Linked DNA regions of Homo sapiens. The protein of the gene in region 4 interacts with the protein of the main gene of each other region in a biochemical or structural test. Each region holds a gene or a part of one and is shown on either strand. Other genes may lie near its edges. The genes, in order: FKBP4, RNF7, OGT, GLMN, CUL1, CUL4B and BIRC3.

What was found.
Region 1: the proteins of GLMN (region 4) and FKBP4 form a complex in vitro, tested with the Homo sapiens proteins (2 studies listed by BioGRID).
Region 2: the proteins of GLMN (region 4) and RNF7 form a complex in vitro, tested with the Homo sapiens proteins (one study listed by BioGRID).
Region 3: the proteins of GLMN (region 4) and OGT form a complex in vitro, tested with the Homo sapiens proteins (one large-scale study listed by BioGRID).
Region 5: the proteins of GLMN (region 4) and CUL1 form a complex in vitro, tested with the Homo sapiens proteins (one study listed by BioGRID).
Region 6: the proteins of GLMN (region 4) and CUL4B form a complex in vitro, tested with the Homo sapiens proteins (one study listed by BioGRID).
Region 7: the proteins of GLMN (region 4) and BIRC3 form a complex in vitro, tested with the Homo sapiens proteins (one study listed by BioGRID).

What each region holds. Positions count from the first base shown.
Region 1 is NC_000012.12:2,801,470-2,804,969, forward strand, and holds part of FKBP4 (peptidyl-prolyl cis-trans isomerase FKBP4), read left to right. Parts: intron 1-1,681; coding exon 1,682-1,789; 3' UTR 1,790-3,500. UniProt on the Homo sapiens protein: Immunophilin protein with PPIase and co-chaperone activities. Component of steroid receptors heterocomplexes through interaction with heat-shock protein 90 (HSP90).
Region 2 is NC_000003.12:141,741,298-141,744,678, reverse strand, and holds part of RNF7 (RING-box protein 2), read right to left. Parts: intron 2,036-3,381; exon of another isoform or gene 1,772-2,035; intron 1,171-1,771; coding exon 1,123-1,170; exon of another isoform or gene 1,122-1,122; intron 1-1,121. UniProt on the Homo sapiens protein: Catalytic component of multiple cullin-5-RING E3 ubiquitin-protein ligase complexes (ECS complexes), which mediate the ubiquitination and subsequent proteasomal degradation of target proteins.
Region 3 is NC_000023.11:71,536,104-71,539,603, forward strand, and holds part of OGT (UDP-N-acetylglucosamine--peptide N-acetylglucosaminyltransferase 110 kDa subunit), read left to right. Parts: intron 1-74; coding exon 75-255; intron 256-1,725; coding exon 1,726-1,969; intron 1,970-3,500. UniProt on the Homo sapiens protein: Catalyzes the transfer of a single N-acetylglucosamine from UDP-GlcNAc to a serine or threonine residue in cytoplasmic and nuclear proteins resulting in their modification with a beta-linked N-acetylglucosamine (O-GlcNAc).
Region 4 is NC_000001.11:92,292,488-92,295,987, reverse strand, and holds part of GLMN (glomulin), read left to right. Parts: intron 1-3,500.
Region 5 is NC_000007.14:148,754,403-148,757,902, reverse strand, and holds part of CUL1 (cullin-1), read right to left. Parts: intron 921-3,500; coding exon 753-920; intron 1-752. UniProt on the Homo sapiens protein: Core component of multiple cullin-RING-based SCF (SKP1-CUL1-F-box protein) E3 ubiquitin-protein ligase complexes, which mediate the ubiquitination of proteins involved in cell cycle progression, signal transduction and transcription.
Region 6 is NC_000023.11:120,523,358-120,526,660, reverse strand, and holds the end of CUL4B (cullin-4B), read left to right. Parts: 3' UTR 1-2,803; downstream 2,804-3,303.
Region 7 is NC_000011.10:102,337,194-102,339,903, reverse strand, and holds the end of BIRC3 (baculoviral IAP repeat-containing protein 3), read right to left. Parts: 3' UTR 501-2,710; downstream 1-500. UniProt on the Homo sapiens protein: Multi-functional protein which regulates not only caspases and apoptosis, but also modulates inflammatory signaling and immunity, mitogenic kinase signaling and cell proliferation, as well as cell invasion and metastasis.

The DNA.
Region 1 (3,500 bases), on a different chromosome or scaffold from region 4:
TTTCCCTGGAGCATTAAGGAGCACGTGTTCCTGCTGTTGGGGCCAGTGTTCTGTGATCAGTGCGGGAAACCTACCCACAAGCCCCAGAAGTTGGGTTGGTTGCCCTGAGTGTAATTCCCGATTTATGTTTTCTTGTGGGCCAGGCGCCGTGGCTCACACCTGCAATCCCAGCACTTTGCAGAGCCAAAGTGGGAGGATCACTTGAACCCAGTAGGTAGAGACCTCAGTGACTTAGGATGGCACCACTGCACCCCAGCCTGAGTGACAAAATGAAACCCCATCTCAAAAAAAGAAAAGCGAGATGCTTTTTGTGTGTGATTAAATAAATAATACACTTAGTTAAATTCAAACTGTACCAAAGTATACAGTCAAGTCTGCCTCCCCCACCAGAAGCAGCTGCCCCTTCAGGGTCTTGGATGGTCCAGTGTATTGCGTCAAGGCACAGGCAGACGTTCCTGTTGCTTCCTCCCTTTCCCCTAACACAGGCAACGTGCTCCACCTATGATTTGGCGCATACTATGCTTTTTTCACGTAATAGTAGCTGGAGGCTTATTTTACATCCGTATTTAAAGAACTTTTACATTCTTTCTTAGGCTTACATTGTATTCCATTGTATGGATATGGCTTGTCTTAGTCAATCAGTCCCTTTTTAGTCTTCCAGTGGTTTTATTTTTTTTCTTTTTCTGAGACAGAGTTTCGTTCTTGTTGCCCAGGCTGGAGTGCAATGGCATGATCTTGGCTCACTGCAAACTCCACCTCCTGGGTTCAAGCGATTCTCCTGCCTCGGCCTCCCGAGTAGCTGGGATTACAGGCGCCCGCCACCACACCCGGCTAATTTTTGTATTTTTAGTACAGACGAAGTTTCATCATGTTGACCAGGCTCTCGAACTCCTGACTTTAGTGATCTGCCCACCCCTGCCTCCCAAAGTGGTGGGATTACAGGTGTGAGCCACCACACCCAGCCAGTCTTAAACAGTGTTCTAAACCAGCACTGTCCAGTAGAAATACAGTATCAACCACATGTAATTCAAAATTTTCTGGTAACCATGTTAAAAAGGTGAAAAACAAATGGAATTAAATTTTAGTTGCATTTGTGTATTTTTCAAACCATCTTCAAAATCCAATGTATATTTTGCACTAAAAACACGAGTTTGAACTAGCCACTTACAGTAGTGGCTACCATACGGGACAGTGCTGCTTAGAACAGCATTGCAGTGAATAACCTCATGAGTTCATAATTTGTACATATACAAGTGTTCTGTTTTGTTTTGTTTGAGACAGTGTCTCTTGCCCTGCCGCCCAGGCTGGAGTGCAGTGGCACAGTCTCAGTTCACTGTAACCTCTGCCTCCAGGGCTCAAGTGATCCTCTTGTCTCAGCCTCCCGAGTAGCTGGGACTACAGGTGCATGCCACCACGCCCAGGTAATTTTTGTAATTTTTGTTGAGATGAGGTTTCACCATGTTGCCCAGGCTGATCTCAAACTTCTGGGCTCAAGCAATCTGACCACCTCAGCCTCCCAAAGTGCTGGGATTACAGGCATAAGCCACCAGGCTTGGCCTATACAGGTATAGCTTTAGGACAGATGTAGGAGAATGGGTGTATCTGTGTAATTCTGCTGGAAATTAAGTGTGTGTTTTTTCACTTGGGAAGTCAGCCCGTTTGCTGTTCATCTTCCTTGCAGGCCAAGGCAGAGGCTTCCTCAGGAGACCATCCCACTGACACAGAGATGAAGGAGGAGCAGAAGAGCAACACGGCAGGGAGCCAGTCTCAGGTGGAGACAGAAGCATAGCCCCTCTCCACCAGCCCTACTCCTGCGGCTGCCTGCCCCCCAGTCTCCCCACTCCACCCTGTTAGTTTTGTAAAAACTGAAGAATTTTGAGTGAATTAGACCTTTATTTTTCTATCTGGTTGGATGGTGGCTTTAGGGGAAGGGGGAAAGGTGTAGGCTGGGGGATTGAGGTGGGGAATCATTTTAGCTGGTGTCAGCCCCTCTTCCCTTCCTCCATTGCACATGAACATATGTCCATCCATATATATTCATCAGAATGTTAATTTATTTTGCTCCCTCTGTTAGGTCCATTTTCTAAGGGTAGAAGAGGCAAGTGGTAGGGATGAGGTCTGATAAGAACCCAGGGTGGAGAGGGAGACTCCTGGGCAGCCGTTTTCCTCATCCTTTCCCTCTCCCAGTCCATTTCCAAATGTGGCCTCCATGTGGGTGCTAGGGACATGGGAAAAACCACTGCTATGCCATTTCTTCTCTCTGTTCCCTTCCTCACCCCCGACGGTGTGGCTGATGATGTCTTCTGGTGTCATGGTGACCACCCCCTGTTCCCTGTTCTGGTATTTCCCCTGTCAGTTTCCCCTCTCGGCCAGGTTGTGTCCCAAAATCCCCTCAGCCTCTTCTCTGCACGTTGCTGAAGGTCCAGGCTTGCCTCAAGTTCCATGCTTGAGCAATAAAGTGGAAACAATAAAACCTGGGTGTCAGACAACCCTTTCTGTTCAGCCTTGGAGTGGTGGGTATGGGTGGGTACATAATGGGTAGTAGCACAATCAAGGGGTCACCCACTTAGTTCCAGTTGAGCTTAAATAAGTGAGCATCTCATGTAGATGCCATAGTTGGGCAGGAAGCAGCCCCACCATGCATGGCTTCCTGAGCACTGCACAGGCTGCCGCTGGGATTTGTGTCTATGGCTTCGCCCAAGGTTCCCAGCACTCCCTCCCTCCAGCAACCTGGCAGTTTTAGTGCCTCTGGTTTTCTTCCCTGACACTTAGGAAGACGAAAGTATAAAGATCTAGAAGACTGGGACACCATGCATGTTCATTTTGAAGTTGGAATTGGTCTTCTGCCTACCTCTGATCTGGCAGAGGTATCTGCATTTTGGTTTGTTAACAAGGTAAAACTCCTGGTGTCACTGACCTCCTCCTGTCAGATAACTTACATGATTAAGGTTAAGAGTAAAGCAGAGTGTTCACGTCCAGCTTCCTTCTCAGCCTTAACAGGAAAAGGCTTGTGCTTTTTTTCTAACTATGCTTTGACCCTTAACTCCTATGGCATGATGGGGCCCTGGGAGAAGCCAGGCAGCACAAGCCAGTCATGCTGAGCTGCCTCCAGATAATCCTGGCTCCAGGCCAGAGCCCGTGTCTGCCCTCATCCCTCTCTCCTACTGTGAGCTCTCCAGTCCTTTCCCAACAGCGATGTGGTTGTCTGCTTAGCCACATGCCTGTATAGTTCCTTCCAGAAGAAATGTATAATGGTGGAAGATGTATTTCTGTGTGAAAATTTTCACCAAGTCATACAACACAGCTGATGCTGGAGCCAGGATTAAAATTGGGGTGTACAAGTCTCCCAGTGTGAGTATCCCTTGAGCCCAAGACACCAAGGATGCAGAGAACTGTGACTGTGCCACTGCACGCCAGCCTGGGCAAGAGAGTGAGACCATCTCTTTTTTAAAAAAGTCCCTGTGTAACTGCTTTCTTACTGGGCTTACCTCACATCACAG
Region 2 (3,381 bases), on a different chromosome or scaffold from region 4:
GAGCTGTTTTCTAGAAGTGATGAATTGTGTTAAGTCACCCATAAGCAGTGCAATTCCTCATGTGACGATGAAATTTTCAAAGTGGCTGGCTGGAGAGAGAGGTCTCTCTGTGATCAAAGAAAGTGGCCTGCCCCTCACAATTCCCAAATTAATACTTTTTAAACAAGCAGCATGAAAGAAAAACTTTAAAACAAGGGAAATCATCCACAATCTAGAATGCAATCTCGAATTTGGGATTCATCTGTCCCTTGCTTGATCAACTGAGCTATATGACAAGAGAAAAAGATTAAATGAAAGAAATAAGGCAGAGAAAAAGATTAAATGAAAGAAATAAGGCAGAAAAAAAGAAAAAAATGCCTATGAAAATTGGCTACAGGGGGTAGGAAGCAAGGGTGAAACATTCTAAGCGTTTCAGGAGGAAGAACTGGATCAAAACTGCAAGAATCAATATTAAGAAGTTCTATGTACACCATGTATTTGTGTTCTACGTACACCATGCAAACACAAAATACAAAGCCAATCTTTTATTCTAAGAAAATCTATAAACATGTTTATATAGCAATCTAGACTTGATCACCTCAAGAACTAGGGCATAAAAATCTTTGAACTGCCTAAAATATTTAGCCTACGACAACTTTTGTAGTCTAAGACTCTAAAGAAAATTTGATACACAAACCACATTCCAAAAATATACTTGAGACTTAGAATTTTTCTACTCTGGTTTTAAAGTTAAATACTGTATTATAAGAGTATTGAAAAGTGAAATGCCTTATTAGAACCAAAAGTGACCTATAACATAGCCAAAATTCAAATAATGTTTTGACAAATTTCTGATTTTATAATTTTCTTAATAGAAAATATTTAATTTTTGATTACCAAAATGTTTATTATGACCATGTCTGGAATATATAACCAATTCTTCTTAATTATGGCAATAAAAGGACTTGCAGGTTCATTCCATTAAACTCTTTTGAGAACCAACATATTTTATATTAACAATGGATCACTGCTTTACAGTTTATTTTTGTGTATTGATAAAGTCAATCTTAATTTCAAATTCAAACATCCCTACTGAGAGAAAACCTTCAGTTGAAAAAGCAAGAGAACAAAATTACAACATACCAACACAGTCCTCTTGTTTGTTTTCAGCTTGACATCTAAGACAGGCATCTAAAAGTAAACAAATAGCGATTCTCATTCTGATGCTCAGAATGCAATTTTTAAAAACCAGACACTTCAAAGTCAAAAGCCCTAAGGGTTAGGGATGGCAATAAAGACTCATACTATTAATTTCTCATCTGAACATAACTACTTAAAGAGGAATAAAGTACAAGGCATTCTACTAATTATAACCAGGAGCAATTTCACAAGGGTTAACAAATCCTCTATTTTTATAAGCTCTGATGAAAAGATGTCCTGACGGTGCCAAGAGAGAAAACTACTAGAGAAAAATATGCCATACTCCACTATATTCAAAGTTACCATACGCTTACTGGGCATGCTCATGGACAGTTTATTTTCAAGACACCCTTTAAATAAACCATATATATATGTTAGCATTTGTTTATACATACATCAAGAAACACTAGGATACCCAAGGAACCAATAATAAAGTTTACTGGGAGGGTTTGGAATGGGAAGGAGAGTTTTCACTCTTCCAGGTAATATACATAACTTCCTCAATTTCTGAACTATATGAATATATAACTTATAAAAAATTAAATTAAAAAATTGCTTCATAAACAAGTTTTTTAAAGTCATCCATACTTACTGACACAGAAGCCTTCCTTTAGCAACTCATAAGAAGCAACTTTTTACTTTCTACCCTAAGACACTTGAGAGTTCCTCTAAAATAAACTGCTTTGTATGCTTCCAATAGGTTGCTACCGATGGTCATCCAGACAAGGCTGGTGAGAAGCCAGTGAGACAGAGGGGACAGCGAGGGCTGTGGAGCCAGATCTACAGTCAAATCCCATTTCACTGGCATTTATTAGGTTCAGGGCCTCGGACCAATTACGAACTCCAATTCCCTCATCTGTAAAAAAGGGACAATACTGTGAGGTATTTATATATTAAGTGGGGATGATACAAACTGGTGAGAATTTTACAGATAAAATAAGTAAATACTAGATATCCCTAAACACTAAGGTTTTTTCTTTGTAAGAAAATGCTCGCCTGTAATCCCAGCACTTTGGGAGGCTGAGGCGGGCGGATCACGAGGTCAGGAGATGGAGACCATCCTGGCTAACATGGTGAAACCCCGTCTCTACTAAAAATACAAAAAATTAGCCGGGCGTGGTGGTGGGCGCCTGTAGTCCCAGCTACTCGGGAGGCTGAGGCAGGAGAATGGCGTGAACCCAGGAGGCAGAGCTTGCAGTGAGCCGAGATAGCGCCACTGCACTCCAGCCTGGGCGAAAGAGCGAGACTCCGTCTCAAAAAAAAAAAAAAAAAAAAAGAAAATGCTTGAGAGCTAAATGATGAGAACACATGGCCACATAGCAGGGAACAACACACACTGGGGCCTTTTGGAGGGTGGAAGGTGGAGAGGATCAGGAAAAATAACTAATGGGTACTAGGCTCAATACCTGGGTGATGAAATAATCTGTGCAACAAACCCTTGTGACACAAGTTTATCTATGTAACAACCCTGTACTTGTAGCCCTGAACCTAAAAGTTTTTTTAAAAAAAAAAAGAAAGAAAGAAAATACAGATAAGTCTGAGCCCAAAGTATTTACCCAACAATGGTAAAGTCTTTTAATAAATTACTTTATTACTGGTTTCTTGGGTATCCTTCTAGAATTTCTTGATGTATATATAAACAAATACTAACATTATATGTATGGGTTATTTAAAAGGGTGCCTTGAAAATAAACTGCCCATGAGCATGCCCAGTGAGCTTATAGTAACTTCTAATATAGTGGAGTAGGTGTAAATACTAAAAATGAGATCCTAAAGGCTGTACTAGAAGTTTTCAAAATTCAATCTGGAATACTATCAGCTTAATGAAAAAAGTAATATAGAATATTTTAGGGAGCAAAAATGGACTCATTCACTAGCTGGAAGAGGAGTCAGAGTTGGGTAAAAGGAAGTTTGAACCAACAGAAAATAGTTTTTAACATAAATAGGAGAAAAATAATTCTGTAAAAATAGAAACACGGTTAAGTTGAAGCCTGCTTCTCTTCTTACACTGGATTCTGCTCAGGCATTTGTTTGCTCCTTTCCACATGCTCTTACCCTTAAAAAAACACCACTGCCCTAGTCTCTTCAGTGTGGATTAAAAACAACCACTGCCTCCTGAGGTTTTCTTCAATCCCACAATTACTATCTCCTCTGTGCAAGGAGTTATGCACTGGGGACACCAAAATGACCAAGGCTGGGTCT
Region 3 (3,500 bases), on a different chromosome or scaffold from region 4:
ACATTTTTTTGGTTTACATTTCTAACTTTTTGTTTTCCCCCCTCCTTCCCTCAAATGTTTTGATGATTCTCCAGAACCAACGAAACGTATGCTTTCCTTCCAAGGGTTAGCTGAGTTGGCACATCGAGAATATCAGGCAGGAGATTTTGAGGCAGCTGAGAGACACTGCATGCAGCTCTGGAGACAAGAGCCAGACAATACTGGTGTGCTTTTATTACTTTCATCTATACACTTCCAGTGTCGAAGGCTGGACAGGTAGGAGATGTTGGGGTACCTGCTCGTGATTGCTGCCTCTGGGTGCTGAGCTTGAAAAATGATACTTAAATATTTGAACTTGAAATTTTTCCAGTACCGGGTTTCAACTGAGCCGCCAACGCACATCTGCTCTCTTGCCCACTTGTGACATGCCCAGCTGCCAGTTTTTCTCCTTCCTTTTGTGGTGGTGGTTATATTATCAGTATGACTAGGGACCTTTTCTAGATTTTTCTATCTGGGTCTGCTGCTTTCTAGACTCTGTTCAGGTAATAAATTATTATCAATGTATATCTGAGCATCCAGTCTCCCTTTCATGAGACCTGTCAGTTTGAGGGACTGAAATGCTCAGAAATGATGGTTATGTATGCTGTGGCAGGAGATGCATACCTGGAGTTTCATTAAGTTGTTATGGTGTGTTGCTTTTAGTTAATCAGTTGAATTAATCAAAAGGGAAGAATTTGTGTTCCTGTCCTTTTAATAATTGTTATTCTGGCATATTTAGACACTTAAAGATGTGCATCATTAAATCTTAAATGGAAAATGAGACTCGTGCACATAGCTTTCCATTTTTTATCTTAATGATCATGATTTCCAATGTGGTGGGTTTTTTTTTTTTTTTTTTTTTTTGAGACGGAGTTTCGCTCTTGTTGCCTAGGCTGGAGTGCAGCGGCGCCATCTCGGCTCACTGCAACTCTGCCTCCTGGGTTCAAGCGATTCTTCTGCCTCAGCCTCCTGAGTAGCTGGGATTACAGGCATGTGCCACCACGCCCAGCTAATTTTTGTATTTTTAGTAGAAACGGGGTTTCTCCATGTTGGTCAGGCTGGTCTCAAACTCCCGACCTCAGGTGATCTGCTCGCATTGGCTTCCCAAAGTGCTGGGATTACAGACATCAGCCACCGCGCCCGGCCAATGTGGTAGTTTTGTAACAAGACTCTAGTTAGAATTTTTTTCTTTTTTTTGAGGTGGAGTTTTGCTCTTGTCACCCAGGCTGGAGTGCAGTGGCGCAATCTCAGCTCACTGCAACCTCCGCCTCCCGGGTTCAAGCGATTCTCCTGCCTCAGCCTCCTGAGTAGTTGAGATTACAGGCGCCTGCCATCATGCGTGGCTAAATTTTTGTATTTTTAGTGGAGACGGGGTTTCACCATATTGGCCAGGCTGGTCTCGAACACCTGACCTCAGGTGATCCTCCCGCCTCAGCCTCCCAAAGTGCTGGGATTACAGGCGTGAGCCACTGCGCCCAGCCAATAATTTTATTTAATAAGAAAAAGCTTTTCATTTTGAAATCTAGAATACCTCCACTTTTGAAAATCTTTGATTTCCCAAATTTTTCTTGCTATGCACTAGTTAAAAGATAAGGTATTATATAATGAGCAATAGCACAGATCTCAAACTGTTTGAGTTGCATATGGGCCATACCTTCTTTTCTGTAACGTGCATACCCATGCATTAACACTTGTCGCCTTTTCCAGATCTGCTCACTTTAGCACTCTGGCAATTAAACAGAACCCCCTTCTGGCAGAAGCTTATTCGAATTTGGGGAATGTGTACAAGGAAAGAGGGCAGTTGCAGGAGGCAATTGAGCATTATCGACATGCATTGCGTCTCAAACCTGATTTCATCGATGGTTATATTAACCTGGCAGCCGCCTTGGTAGCAGCGGGTGACATGGAAGGGGCAGTACAAGCTTACGTCTCTGCTCTTCAGTACAATCCTGTGAGTAAAATTTTAATGGTTACTTTCCCTTCCTAGAAACCCAGAAAGAAACATAGTGTGATATTTCAGACACTAAAGTAGGTTTTCACATGGAATAAAGTCAAAAGTTTAGAAATGCGTATGTACTTAAAATGGTGAAATTGCTTTTAGCTGGTCTGCGTTATGCTAAAATATTTGTTTTATTTAGCAAGTTATATTAAAAAGCATAAAAATTCTTATTGCAAGAAACTACATCAATTTTAAAATAACACGTATAAAGTACAGAGCACATGACTTTTTTCTGTTGTGATTAACTTTGGATAAATTCTGATAAGTGTTTGCAAGTTAATTGATTTTCAAGGAATGGTGGATAATGGGTCTTAATCTGTAAAATCTGTAATATAAAATAGTTTGAAACAAGATGCCACTATATGGAATGATGTGAAAATTAGGCTACAAAATTTCTTCCTCAATATCCTATTCTCTTCTCTTTCAATGTAATTAGAAGTCATAGAATTTAGATGATACTACTTATACTGGGCTTTTGATTAGTTTAAAAATTTTTTTTGTCTAAGTTGCAGATGTGTTCTGGGAACAAGTAAGGCTCAGCTGGCAGACCTTAAATTCATACTGTGTTTAGGATCTCCGAAAGATACAAAAACATAAGACTTTCCCTCAGAACTTATGATGTAGTTAGAGAAAGTAGATGTAAACTTAAGAGGTAAATGATAGTGGGGTTATAGAAATCTAGAAAAAGTTCCCAAGTTACATTGTCAACATTCAGTTTTGTAACCAACCTGGAAATGGCTAATAGTTTATTTTAGCTACCGTTTACTGAAAGTCTGTGTGGTCAGACACTCTACTGACAGCTTTAAATGATTGGTCTTAGTTAATCCTCACAATAATTCTTCAAAATAGATGATATTATTTCTGATTTTTATCAATTAAAAAAAAACCATGGACTCAGGGTTATGTGGCTTTCATGGGGACAAAGCTAGTAATGAAGTATTAATAGATATTAAAACCTGAGTCTGAATATCCTCAAAGCAAATGTTGAAGTGAAAAGAAATAAAAGTGGGATGATGTGCCCAGAGGGCACTCACCCATCAAAGCAGCCCTTGAGCACAGTTAAAAAACCATTGATCATATTTTGCTGTCCCTTATTTTTTGGTTAGGAAACTGAAACTAAATTTAGTAGTTTGTTCAAAGATCCGAAGTCACTTCTCATGATGATATCTATTAACAATTTTTGTAGTTAATTTTGAGAGTTTAAACGTGTCCTTTTTAGAAAATCCATTGCTTTAAAAAACATTTTTTTTTAAGAGATGGAGTCTTGCTATGTTGCCCAGGCTGTACTCATACTCCTGGGCTCAAGCAGTCCTCCTGCCTCAGCCTCCAGAGTAGCTGGGACTATAGGTGTGTGCCACCACACCCAGCTTCTAAATTTATTGGTTTTTGAATGGATACAGTGAATACCTCCAGTTAGCACTCTTGGAGGTAGCAAATGAAACTAATTTCTTGTCTATCTTTTCTGAGACACTCAGTGTATATA
Region 4 (3,500 bases):
TATAATAAATCTTATGTTTTTTAAACTCTTCTTGATTTTTTTCTAATTGCGTTCTCAGGATAACCTTCTAAAGTACTTAGCTTTCAGCTAATAATAAAAAAATTAATAACAACTAATATTTATTGCATGTTTACATGTACCAGATGCTGTCTTTAGTCCTTTACATTTATTAACTTAATTAGTCTCTCCAAAATCTCAGAAGGTAGGTGTTCATTTTGTAACTGAAAAGTTAAATGACTTGCCCAAAAGTAAGTCAGCTTTTATGTAACATCCAAGATTCAGACCTGTGTAGCATGGTTTTGGAGCTCCTAACCACTCTGCTCTACCTCTGGTTAGTGCTGTATGGCGTATGGTTTTAGGGTAGAATACAGGGGATTGCTTGATTGAGAGGGAGAGGCATCAAAAATGACTGGGTTTCTAGCCTCTAAAAGGATAACATATGATATCAAACAGAAAAAGGCAACCTAAGTAGAGGGAAAAGTTTTCTGAAGGAACAAGTGAGTTGACTTTTAGAAATTTTGAGTTTAAGTACAGCAGTCAATTGGAAAATAAGGTTTTGAGCTCAGTAGAGATAGAGGAATTAAGATGTAGATCTCTGAGACACATATCTGTGAGACTTTAATTACCTAAAGATTGGGTAATTGAAGCATTGAGGAGTGAAAAAAAAAAACAAGAATTTACCTGAGTTCACATAAAAGGGGCAGAAGAGAAGAGGCCCAAGATCCCATCTTGAAGAATTTAAGAAACAGGTAGAGAGAAGAGGCCTGCCAAGGAGATGAGGATCAGCACCACATCAGTGAGGCAGAAGGAAAAGGGAAGTATAAACAAAGTATTTTTCAGGCATTGCATGCCTTAGCGTTTTATTTTTAGCATGCTTCTGAATAGCTAATGGGATAGATTTAAACATGTGAGGCTTAGTCTTAATAGTTTGAGAATCACCTTTGCAATATGTGGTCAGCTAAATGCAAAGGTTTAGATATTGATAAGACAATGTTCAAAACTGACTACAGGCTGGGCACAGTGGTTCATGCCTATAATCCCAGCACTTTGGGAGGCCGAGGCGGGTGGATCACCTAAGGTCAGGAGTTCGAGACCAGCCTGGCCAACATGGTGAAACCCTGTCTCCACTAAAAATGCAAAAATTAGCTGGGCGTGATGGTGCGCCCCTGTAATCCCAGCTACTCGGGAGACTGAGATGGGGGGATTGCTTGAACCCAGGAGGTGGAGGCTGCAGTGAGCCAAGATCGTACCACTGCACTCCAGCCTGGGAAACAGTGAGACCCCATCTCAACAACAACAACAACAAAAAACTGACTACAATTTAATTTTCTTGCCAGGTGACACTATCAAAATTGACCAAGATTTACTATTATCTTCACCTATAAGACTGAATTAAAGAAAAAAAATAAAAATAAAAAGATTTACTATTTACTGCTTTGTGAGAGACCATTCACATACTATTTATTACAGTATATTATAATTGTTGTAGTTATTGTTAATCTCATAAATTAAACTTTGTCACAGATATGCATGTATAGTATTTATATATAGTGTTTGGTACTATTCATGGTTTCAGGCATCCACTGGGGGTCCTGGAATGTACCCCCTGCAGATAAGTGGGGAGACTACTGTATCGTATACTCTATTTTTATTATCTTACAAGACTGGGGTCAAGATGAGGTATTATAGGTGTCATTTTGTCTTCTTCCTAGATCAGATTTTTTTTAAAAAAATTCTAATTTTTGTGGGTACATAGAAGGCATATATATTGATGGGTACATGAGATGTTTTGATATAGACATGCAATGTGTAATAAGAATATCATAGAGAATGGGGTATCCATCCCCTCAAGCATTTATCCTCTGTGTTACAAACAAACCAATTATACTCATTTACTTTAAAATGTACAATTAGTTATTGACTATAGTCACCCTGTTGTGCTATCAAATAGTAGGTCTTATTCATTACTTATAACTTTTTTTTTTTTTTTTGGTACCCATTAGCCATCTTCCCTGCCTCCCACTACCATTTTCAGCCTCTGGTAACCATCCTCCTACTCTCTACGTCCGTGAGTTCAGTTGTTTTGGTTTTCAGATCCCACAAAAAAGTGAGAACGTTCAATGTTTTTCTGTGCCTGACTTCTTTCACTTAACATAATGGTCTACAGTCCCATCCATGTTATTGCAAATGACAGGATGTCATTCATTTTTGTGGCCAAATAGTACTCCATTGTGTATGTGTACCACATTTTCTTTATCCATTCATCTGTTGATGGACACTTAGGTTGCTTCCATATCTGAGATATTGTAAATAGTGCTGCAATGAACATGGGAGTGCAAATATCTCTTCAATATAGTGATATCCTTTCTTTTGGGTATATACCCAGCAGTGGGATTGCTGGATCATATGGTAGCTCTATTTTTGTATTTTTTGAGGAACTGCCAAACTGTTCTCATTAATGGTTGTAGTAATTTACATTCCTACCAACAATATCTAAAAAAAAAAATACAAAAAATTAGCCGGGAGTGGTGGCGGGCACCTGTAGCCCCAGCTACTTGGGAGGCTGAGACAGGAGAATGACGTGAACCCAGGAGGTGGAGCTTGCAGTGAGCTGAGATCGCGACAATACATGTCGCGACAATATATGAGGGTTTCCTTTTCTCCACATCCTTGCCAGCATTTGTTATTGACTGTCTTTTGTATATAAGCCATTTTAACTGGGGTGAGATGATATCCCATTGTAGTTTTGATTTGCATTTCTCTGATGATAATGATGCGTACCTTTTCATATGCTTGTTTGCCATTTGTATGCCTTTTGGGAAATGTCTATTCAAATCTTTTGCCAATTTTTTAATCGGATTATTAGATTTTTTCCTTTAGTGTTGTTTGAGCTTCTTTTCTATTCTGGTTATTAATCTCTTGTCAGATGGGTTAGATCTGCTTTTTCATTATTTATATATTTTTTTGAGATAGGGTCTGTCTCTGTCACCCAGGCTGGTTTGCAGTGGTGTGATCACAACTCACTGCTACCTCGCCTCCCAGGCTCAAGCCATCCTCCCACTCATCCTCCCAAGTAGCTGGGGCTACAAGCGTGTGCCACCAGACCCAGCTAATTTTTGTATTTTATACACAGGGTTTGGCCGTGTTGCCCAGGCTGGTCTTGAACTCCTGAGCTCAAGTGATCCACCCACCTCAGCCTCCCAAAGTGTTGGGATTACAGGCATGAGCCACCATGCTTAAAAAAAAAAAAAAAAAGAAAAGAAAAGACGGGGTGCGGTGGCTCACGCCTGTAATCCCAGCACTTTGGGAGGCTGAGGTGGGCGGATCACGAGGTCAGGAGATCGAGACCATCCTGGCTAACATGGTGAAACCCCATCTCTACTAAAAAAAAAAAAAAAAAAGGCAAAAAATTAGCCAGGCATGGTGGCGGGTGCCTGTAGCCCCAGCTACTTGGGGGGCTGAGACAGGAGAATGACATGAACCCAGGAAGCAGAGCTTGC
Region 5 (3,500 bases), on a different chromosome or scaffold from region 4:
CATACTGTTCTCATAGTAGTGAATAGTCTCACGAGATCTGATGGTTTTATAAGGGGTTTCCGCTTTTGCTTGGCTCTCATTCTGTCTTGCCTGCCGCCATCTAAGATGTGCCTTCTGCCATGGTTGTGAGGCCTTCCCAGCCACGTGGAACTGTTGAGCCCATTACACTTCCTTTGCTTTATAAATTACCCAGTCTCAGGTAGGTCTTTATCAGCAGTATGAAAACAGACTAATACAGGACCATACTTTGAAAACCAATGGACCAAAAAAACCCCTTTCATTGACTGAAGAAACGTATATTACTGAGGGTGATTTAGTAATTAATTAATTCAGGGTCCTCTCCATGAAGCAGCGTTTCCCAGACTCTAAAGCATGGGAGGGCTAATCCTCAGGGCTCGCCCTCAGGTATGGCACCTGATTTGCCTGGGACTACCAGGACTCAGGACTTTCAGTGCGAAAACTCAGGCAGTTCCAGGCAAACTGTGATGGTAGGGTCAGGTAATTAAAGAAGAAATTTTTAAAAAGCAAATGCAGAAATGGGCAAATTGTATTTTAGAACTCCAATTTACCCATTCTTCTACTTTCTTGCTAAAAAATATTTAAGTGACATTTATTGATAAAACAATGAAAATTAGTTTACTATTCTGAAAAAAGCTTAATATTTGCCTAGATTCTCTTGCTGAAAGACAATTTGCCATTAAAAAAAACAAAAACAAAAACAAATTTAAAACGTTTTAAAACAAAACTCTTACCGAATAGATTTCATATATTCCTTTTCGTCCTTCGTCACATTCACGGCGAACCCAATGTCTATTGAGGTAGGCACAAATTCCATTCAGCACTTTGCTTGAAAATCGATAATCTTCCCATTGTTGAGTGTAGAATTTCAGTACACTCTCATCCATCAAATCTTCTCCATCCTAAAAACAAGTTAACTAAAGCTTTAAGATGACTAATTTGTCACATTATAAATTAAAAATAACGGTGAATAACATCTACTGTATTAAAATACATTGACACATGTGATTTTAGATGGCTTCTTTAAATTATTCTGTATACAAAAACATGCTAATATATATAAACTCACAAGAATATAGTAAAATAATTCTTTCATCTCAAATTAAACTGGAACATTTTTCATGGTATTAAATATGCAAACACACTCAAAAAAAGTACCCTGAACATTTGATATGCGGGTAATTCCTTTTTATTAAGAAATATACCACAAAATCATCTGTATTTTTGATATTTGTTTAAAAAAAAATTGGCTGGGTACAGTGGCTCACACCTCTAATCTCAGCACTTTGGGAGGCCGAGGTGGGCAGATCACTTGAGGTCAGGAGTTCAAGACCAGCCTGGCCAACATGGTGAAACCCTGTCTCTACTAAAAATACAAAAATTAGCCGGGGCGTGGTGGCACATGCCTGTAGTCCCAGCTACTTGGGAGGCTGAGGCAGGGGACTCGCTTGAACCCAGGAGGCGGAGGTTGCAGTGAGCCAAGATCGCACCACTGCACTCTAGCCTGGGCGACAGAGCAAGACTCCGCCGCACCCCTTCCCAAAAAAAAAAGAAATCAACATGTCCTACTTAGCAATTCAGACAATGAGACTAATACTATTCAATTTTTACATGCATCTTCTTCCTTCTTTAAATTTACTTAAAAACCATAAAAACACTTTTTTGTGGTGATCTGTAAAAATAAGGTAAGTACAATAGTATAACAATATTTCAAGAAAATGTGCATTTACGAAAATTATTTTTATCCAGATTTCCACAACTTGAGTCACAAATTTTTATTTGAAGGAGACTAACCGGAATTTTTTTTCTTAGGGATTAATGGCATCTACAAAGTAAACCTTACCCTTTAAAAACGTTAATGGTACTGTATGGCAGCACTGCCATTTAGGTGTGTGCAGCAGAGAAGCACGAAAGAGGAAGGTGGGGGCAGGAGGGCTGCAGGAAGGGCTGGGGCGAGCCCACTGGCTTCTCTGAGCCTCAGTGTCTTCAATGAAAACTAAATGGCTACAACAGACTGGAAGCTCCACATGTATAAGGTACACGAGTGACCAAACAAGCCATGTAAAAACCGGATCATCTCTTGAGACAAATAATTTTTTGTTCATTTAAATTTAAATAATATGAAATGAACTTTAAAATGTAAAGCTAAGCTATTTTGGATGATGGTACTTGACCTTTTTAAAATGCAAAAATATCACTGATGGCATGGTCATCAACCTTTTTACTTAGCACAATATACTGTTTCTTACTTTAGTACTAAAGAATAATTAATTAATTACAACATTCACTTTATGATGTGTTGTGAATAAAAAGAACAGTGGCTTCAGCAAGACCTTAGAAACACCATTTGGGGAAGATGAAAATAATACACTAGTCACAACTTATGGCCAGCCAACTACATACAGTCTGTTAGCAAGATGTTTTAAAGTTTTCAATTAGCTTGCAAAAATAAATTAGGTAAAACAATTTTGCAGCATGCAGAATTTTTGCACATTGTGTAAATAAAAAATATTTAAAATATATACACAGAAGAGTTCCTGCAAATTTCCCTGGGGTCACAGTATAGACGTCTTCACTCTTTGACAGTGTAGAACCAGATGAAGGACCCACTTGCTCATCTTGTGGCTAGATACAAGGAGTCACACTGCCTTTGCTACAAAGGATGAAGACCAAGGAAGAAAAGGCGGGAGATGAAGGGGAAAAGACTCCACCACACTGCCCAACCAAAGGCTTGGAGTGGGAGGGACCTACGCTAGAAGGAAATGGATATTCACAGTGAAACTCATCGTAGTCACGAGCACAATTTCACAGCAGTTTTGAAATACACGTCATGGCCAGGCACTGTGGCTCACACCTGTAATCCCAACACTTCGGGAGGTGGAGGTGGAGGACTGCTTGAGCCCAGGAGTTGGAGACCAGCCTGGGCAACATAAAGAGACCCTGATTCTACAAAAGATTTAAAAATTAGCTGGGAGCTGGGTATGGTGGTACATGCCAGTAGTCCTAGCTACTCAGAAGGCTAAGGCGGGAGGATTGTTTGATCCCAGGAGTTGGAGGCTGCAATGACCTATGATTGCACTACTGCACTCCAGCCTGGGTGACAGAACAAGACCCTGTCTTAAAAAAAAAAAAGGAAAAGAAAAAAAGTACTTCATAACCATGTGTAAAGAGCAAGATCACATTTGAAAAACATGGTTTCCAAGACTGAATAACCTTACAATTATTTCTACACCTTGATAGGGAACACCACATTGGGTTCACAGTAAAATGCAGATAATTTGAATACATATTTGCTTTAAATGAAAAAGTTCATCATTTCTAACAACCAAATCCAAAATGGTTGGTAATTTAACGAAAGCACTATTATGCTAAAAGGTTATCAAAGCTTTCTAATTTTAAAAAACAGAAAGAGCTGGGCACGGTGGTGAGCATTTGCAGAGTCTCAGCTACTCAGGAGGCCGAAGTGGAAGGATCACTTGAGC
Region 6 (3,303 bases), on a different chromosome or scaffold from region 4:
AAATGAAGCAGTGTAATTAATGGAAATAGTTGAGTGGACTTTTTCTCAGTGGTTAACATGCCCATTTTAAAGAGTAATACTTACCTTTAAGAAGAATGTTGTTGAACTCTTTGCATGTTATTTAGTATGATGTGCAGAAAACACTTAAGAACGTACCTGGTCTTCATGAATTCCTCTTTGGAACTGGGAAAGAGATCCCTGTGGCTATTAAAAAGGGGGGAGGGTTCTTACACACCATTAATTATGAAGCAAAAGGTTTATTTGCTTAAAATGTCATTTAAAGATACTTAAACTGCATGCAAACTTTATTTACTGTACAGAGTTCTGGATGTATTTATCAAATAGAAAAACCACCCTTGACTTGGTTGTTCACCCGTTTTGTGATTTCCCTTGAAAAGAGAAATGAATTGTCATAGCTATTGATATTTTACTAGGTGATGTTCTGTTACACTGAAAGGGATGTTTTTTAAAAAAAATTATTTGGAAACAAGTTTTCAAGTAGGGGGACAGTTGCTTACATAATATCTTGTATATTCACATCCTAAAAATTTTCATTTATGAGTATGGGATGTGTGTATATGGCTTAGCCCCAAGTTAACTGTGCTGATTAACAAGTACTTATAAAAATAGCTAAAGTAGAAAATTAATGATCAGTTGTACTAGAGGAACATCATAGAAGAGAAAAATCCAACTCTTTATATTAAAAATGAATACAATAAGAAAATTGCAAAAGAGACCAAAATGAACGTGTTTTGTAAATTGTTACAGGAGCAAAAACTTTGCAACTAGTTTTCAACATACTTTAGACTTTAAATGTTGTTTGGACAGTTTTGTCTTCAACTTGGACCAATTGTAGATTGTTACAGGCTTCCTAGGATTTAGCATTCCTATTTTCTCTACCAAAGTTTTTTTTAGAAGCATCCCAACTCTTCTCTTTGTTGATAAATAAGCCTTTCCTGTCATCTTCATTTTAACTTGCTAAAACCCTAGATACAAAGGTCCTCCCTCATTTTTCCCACAGAGCCCCTGTTTGGGAATTTGAGATTCTGTGTCATGCTGGTTTTCCTTTCAGAATTGCTTGAAATCGAGTTCTCTTAGCCACTGGACACCTAGTTTTCAGGAGAATGTCCCAAGATTGTTTATATATACAAAATGGCAAAAGTACTGTTTTTCGAATTGATAATTCAAGCAAAGGCTTCTCTTTACTGTCACTGATTTTTTTTTGTTTTTATTTTGTTTCCTTGTTTCTATTTCCTTGAAGCTTTGAAGGGAGGAGAAGCAGAAAATTTTGTTTATGTTTGTTAAAAATCAGAACTACTTAATGCTTTTTGCCACAGCATATTTCCTTGCCTGTTGGAGCCGTTAGGAAGATTACCTATGTCCTAATCTTCAACCTGAGAAGATTTTTGACTCTTGTGTCTACTGTTGATTGTTTGCTTGAGTTCTCAAAGACCTGTGGCCAGGTATTTTAAAAAGTCGTCTATTTCTTTCTAGTTGCATCAACTTGCACACTGGTGTCTAACTATATGTGGTATTCGGAACTTGTAATTCTTATTGAGCAGCCATTGCCTATATTTTCTCAGCTCCTCACTGATTTCTTTATATGAGCTCAGCTGACAAGCAAATGCAGCTATTTTGTTTACCCTCTCTTCATACCGGACCATCAACAACAGTGTTCTAACTCATCCCTGATGGTCTGTGAGATGTAGACTATTACACAAGATTCAAGTTACTCGTAAGCAACTTTTAGATAGAGTTGGTCCTGTTAGGAGGAGACTCTTGATGTCACCTTCAGTATCTTGAAAGCGGGTCCCCTCCCCGAGGCTCTTAATTCTTTGAAAACTTGATGCTGTTTCAGCTGAAAAATTAGCAAGACTGTTAAAAAAAAAAAGTTGAGGGGAGCTGTTTAAGAAACTGAAAAGTAATTGCAAACTACATTGGATAATTGTGACTTTCAGTTGTTGTTCTGTATCAGTTGAATTTTTGTGCTCTTTTCCCTGTGTACGTGGTGGTTCTATTTTTCTCCAATAAAACTTTTATTTAAAAAAAGTTTCTAGAGAAGATCTTTAAAATTCAAGTATTGTAAGAAAGTTATAAAATCACAGGACTTAAAATCTTCCTAACAACTTCTAATGAACTCACATTTGTTGATTTTGTTATTTTTAAACTTTTTAAAAATTTTGTAATGGTTTTGTGGTAATGCTATAAGAGTATGGGGGAGGGCATGGTTAACAGGGTGAGGAAAATTCCCAGGAATCCTCAAGGTGGATAATTATTCTTAAACATGCGGATACAAGTATAAACATTGCTTCATTCAAATCCTCAGTGTCAAATTGTTTCATAAAGTCAATATGAAATGAGTCTAGATTTGAGTTCAGGGGAGAAGAAAAGATTACTCTTAGTTATGGCATTTGCTCTGCCTTTTCTGTTAATAGTTTTTTGAGTTCTGGGCCAGATACTCTCAGAGTAAGATGTTCCTCAAAGTTTTTGAACCCAGTTCCTGAGTCTGCTTGAATGGTCTTAATATGATGTCTAGCCATACTCTTGAAATTTTTGCTGTGTATGTGAGTGTACAGTTCAGAAAACCAGTTTATCTGGGCATCTGGATCTAAAGATTTGAGAAGTTTGTTTTTTAATCTGGATATTCATAAATCTTTTAAAATGAGCTGGTCTTTGTTTTCATGACCACTCTGTTTAATGCTGTGAATGGCAGGAGTGTTGTGAGCGTGTTCTATTCTCTTATTTACATAAAATTGCCAAAACAAATTGTTCATTAAAAAGAAAAGAGCAGTACTGATGAAAATTTGCATAATTATGCTTTGTAAAATGATATCTTGCTAATGCTTCATTAATGAATATTTTTCAGTGTCCTACAAAAAAACACCTGCTTTACATTTGAATACTGAAGTTTGTTCACCTGCAAACACTTGGTTGAAATCAAACACTTTGCTCAATTATTTTCCTTTTTCCCCTTGCTATTATAAAAAAGGGTATTTCTTCTTTTGAATGGACACATAATGTACCTTTATGTTTAACAATCCTTAGAAGTCATCTCTAGCATAGTGAAAAAGACTCTGACCTTTCTTTTGTAAAACCGTTTCTATTGGATGTAAAATATAAGAATGTGCTGCACTGGCATGTTAGAACTTAATAGTTTTGCCAGCTATAACAACAACAGATCCTCTTCATTTGTTCTCTAATTTCAAAACTTTTCTTTAATTTTTAAATTTTTTATTGTGGTAAAGTACACACAAAATTTACCATTCTAACCATGATAAAGTATACAATTCTGACATTTAGTAC
Region 7 (2,710 bases), on a different chromosome or scaffold from region 4:
TATTTATTAAGACATGGTCTTACTATGTTGCCCAGACTGGTCTTGAGCTCCTAGACTCAAACGATCCACCTGCCTTGGCCTCCTAAAGTTCTGGGATTACAGGTGTGAACCACTGCATCTGGTCTTGAATTTTCTTAGTAACATACATAGTGTCTACTATGATGTGCAAGACAACAAAAGGAGGTGACATCTTCTCCAATAGGAGCTGAATATGGTTCAATCACATTGCCTGTGACCACAAAGGAACTTAATGGCTAATGGTATCAAGCGATATAAGGAAATTAAGAGAAAGGTTGGAATGGAAGCTATAATGAGCATGGCTGAAGTATGAAATTAAGCCTGCTGCAAAGTCCTGTATGATCACACTTAATATATTGAGGTTTAAACCCAATGACTGAAGACCACGTTGGCTGGTAGGTGGGGTTGGAGGCAATCAAATGGATTAATGCATGTCAAGCACCTGAAAACATCTGACATTTGGTCAGCAAATAGATCTACCATTATTATCTATGGTGATTTATTTTTTCCAAAACAAAATGTCAAAATAACACTTAGGGAAATAACATATTTGAATAAATGGGTTGGTTATAATAGCTATTTATTACCATAATGAGAAATGAACAAAAGTTTTACAGTGAGATGACAAAGTTCAAATATTATCTGTAGTATACAAGAACTAGATAAAAAAAAAAACACATGGTGCAAAAAGGGTGCCTACTATTTAAATACCCTATACCTGAGTTACAAATCACCTAAGCACAATTACAAATAATTCAGCCTAGCACCCATGCAGGACACTGGCTAGTACATGGGTAGCCAGCAGAGCCTCTTAGCAGAGGCAAAATCAATTGCATTTCAAGGAAATAAGTCTCCCAGCATCAGAATGCAGAGATGGATTCTTTCCTCCCCTCACTTGGTCCCTAATTGTTCTCTTTACAACACTAGCAGATGTTGGGGCTCAGAAAACCCAAAGTGAAGGCCTCAGAAGCAAAGTTTTTCTCTGATGTTATCCTGCCCTCCTGTCTCAGCCTCATTCTCCCTGAAGGCAAGCCACAGAAACTTGAATTCCTCTTCCCCAAGGTAGGTCATAGAAACTGGAACCATCTTTCCACAATGCCAGACTTACATCTTAAAGATAGTACTCTAATCTTTCCTCACCTAACTATGTAAGAGCTGGCCATAAATAAATTCTCTGACCTACCTTGCTTGATAGCAGGTTATAATATCCCCATCCCATACAGGCCCTGCCCTATATCCAGGAGGAAGGAATGCTGCACAGAGACCAAGAATAATCTGAACAGACAGGCCTTGCTGGGTCCCCAACCTGTGTCTATTCCCATTAGATCATATCCTTTTTTTCCAATCACTATTCTTCAGGGCTGTCCATTCATTATCAAACCTAAGCATAAAAATGCACAGTTTCCCCTGTAATTTTGGATCTTCATTACGAAGGCTCCCCGGTGATGTAAATCTGTGATTAAATAAATTTGTTAAGTTTTTCTCTTGTTAACCTGTCTTTTGTTATAGGATTGTCAGCTGTGACCCTTATGAAGGGGTCTTTCCCTTCTGCCCTTACAGAGCCATCTGCCCCTATACAGACATCTAGAACTGGTTTAGATGACTAGCCTTTGCCTGCCTTCCCCTGAGTATTCCCTATTACAGTCTTACTTCTGCTCTTGAAGACCTAATACCTCTATAAGAAGCAAAGGACAGAGTTATGACTCGGACGTGTTGAGTACCAATAACATAATGCAGAGGGGGACATTTTGTTGCACTGACAATATGAAACAGATTTATTTACCAGAACAACCTGTTGGTCCCAAGCATTGCTAACCAGTGTACTTTCTAAGTTTCAGAATTAATACCAAAGAGATAAGAATAAAACTCAGACCTTCTTCCAATAGGTGGGGCTGGCATGAGACTTCTTGAATGAATCAATAGAGAAGTGAATAAACAAACTTACTAAAGGGACTGTTTGATTCTTGTCTCAGGCATTCCATAATAGATTTTATGATGTGTTGACCCCGTGTTCTACAAGTGTCAATGAAGAAGCATCTTATGGGAAGGAGTATAAACTGTAGTTCAATATTTGAGAGGCTTTAAGAAGGTATGGAAAGAGTCTGGGAGTGACTAAACTATCCAATGTCATTGAAATAAAGCAATGAAGAATAAGAGTAATTTTTGTTGCTTTATTAAATTTTTTCTCACAGAATTCTTTATAAAAACACCATGTCCCTAAAATGTCATTCAACATATATGCACACCTTCGATGTATAGGACACTGATCAAAAAAGACAGAGAAATGTGTCCCTGGTGTTTTGTTTTTGTTCTGTTTGTTTTTAAAGGCAGGGTCTCAGTATGCTGCCCAGGATGGATTCAAACTCCTGGGCTCAAGTAATTCTCTTGCCTCAGCCTGGGACTACAGGCACATACCACCACACCTGGCTTCATGTTCCCGGTATTAGTACAATGCCAAAATATTTAAAATTCTTAAAGGTTAACTCAAATATCTTAAGTTTTACTTCACTTACAATTTCAATAATGCTGAAATTTTGATTGAATATTGTGTTTGTAGTGCTACCTCTTTTTCGTTCATAAGAACAAAAGCCTATCATTCTCTTAGTTTCTAAAAAATATATGTTCATATGGTTTAGATACATATATAAATATGTTACACAAAACAATGTTTTTTGAGTTGTAAATAAATAAA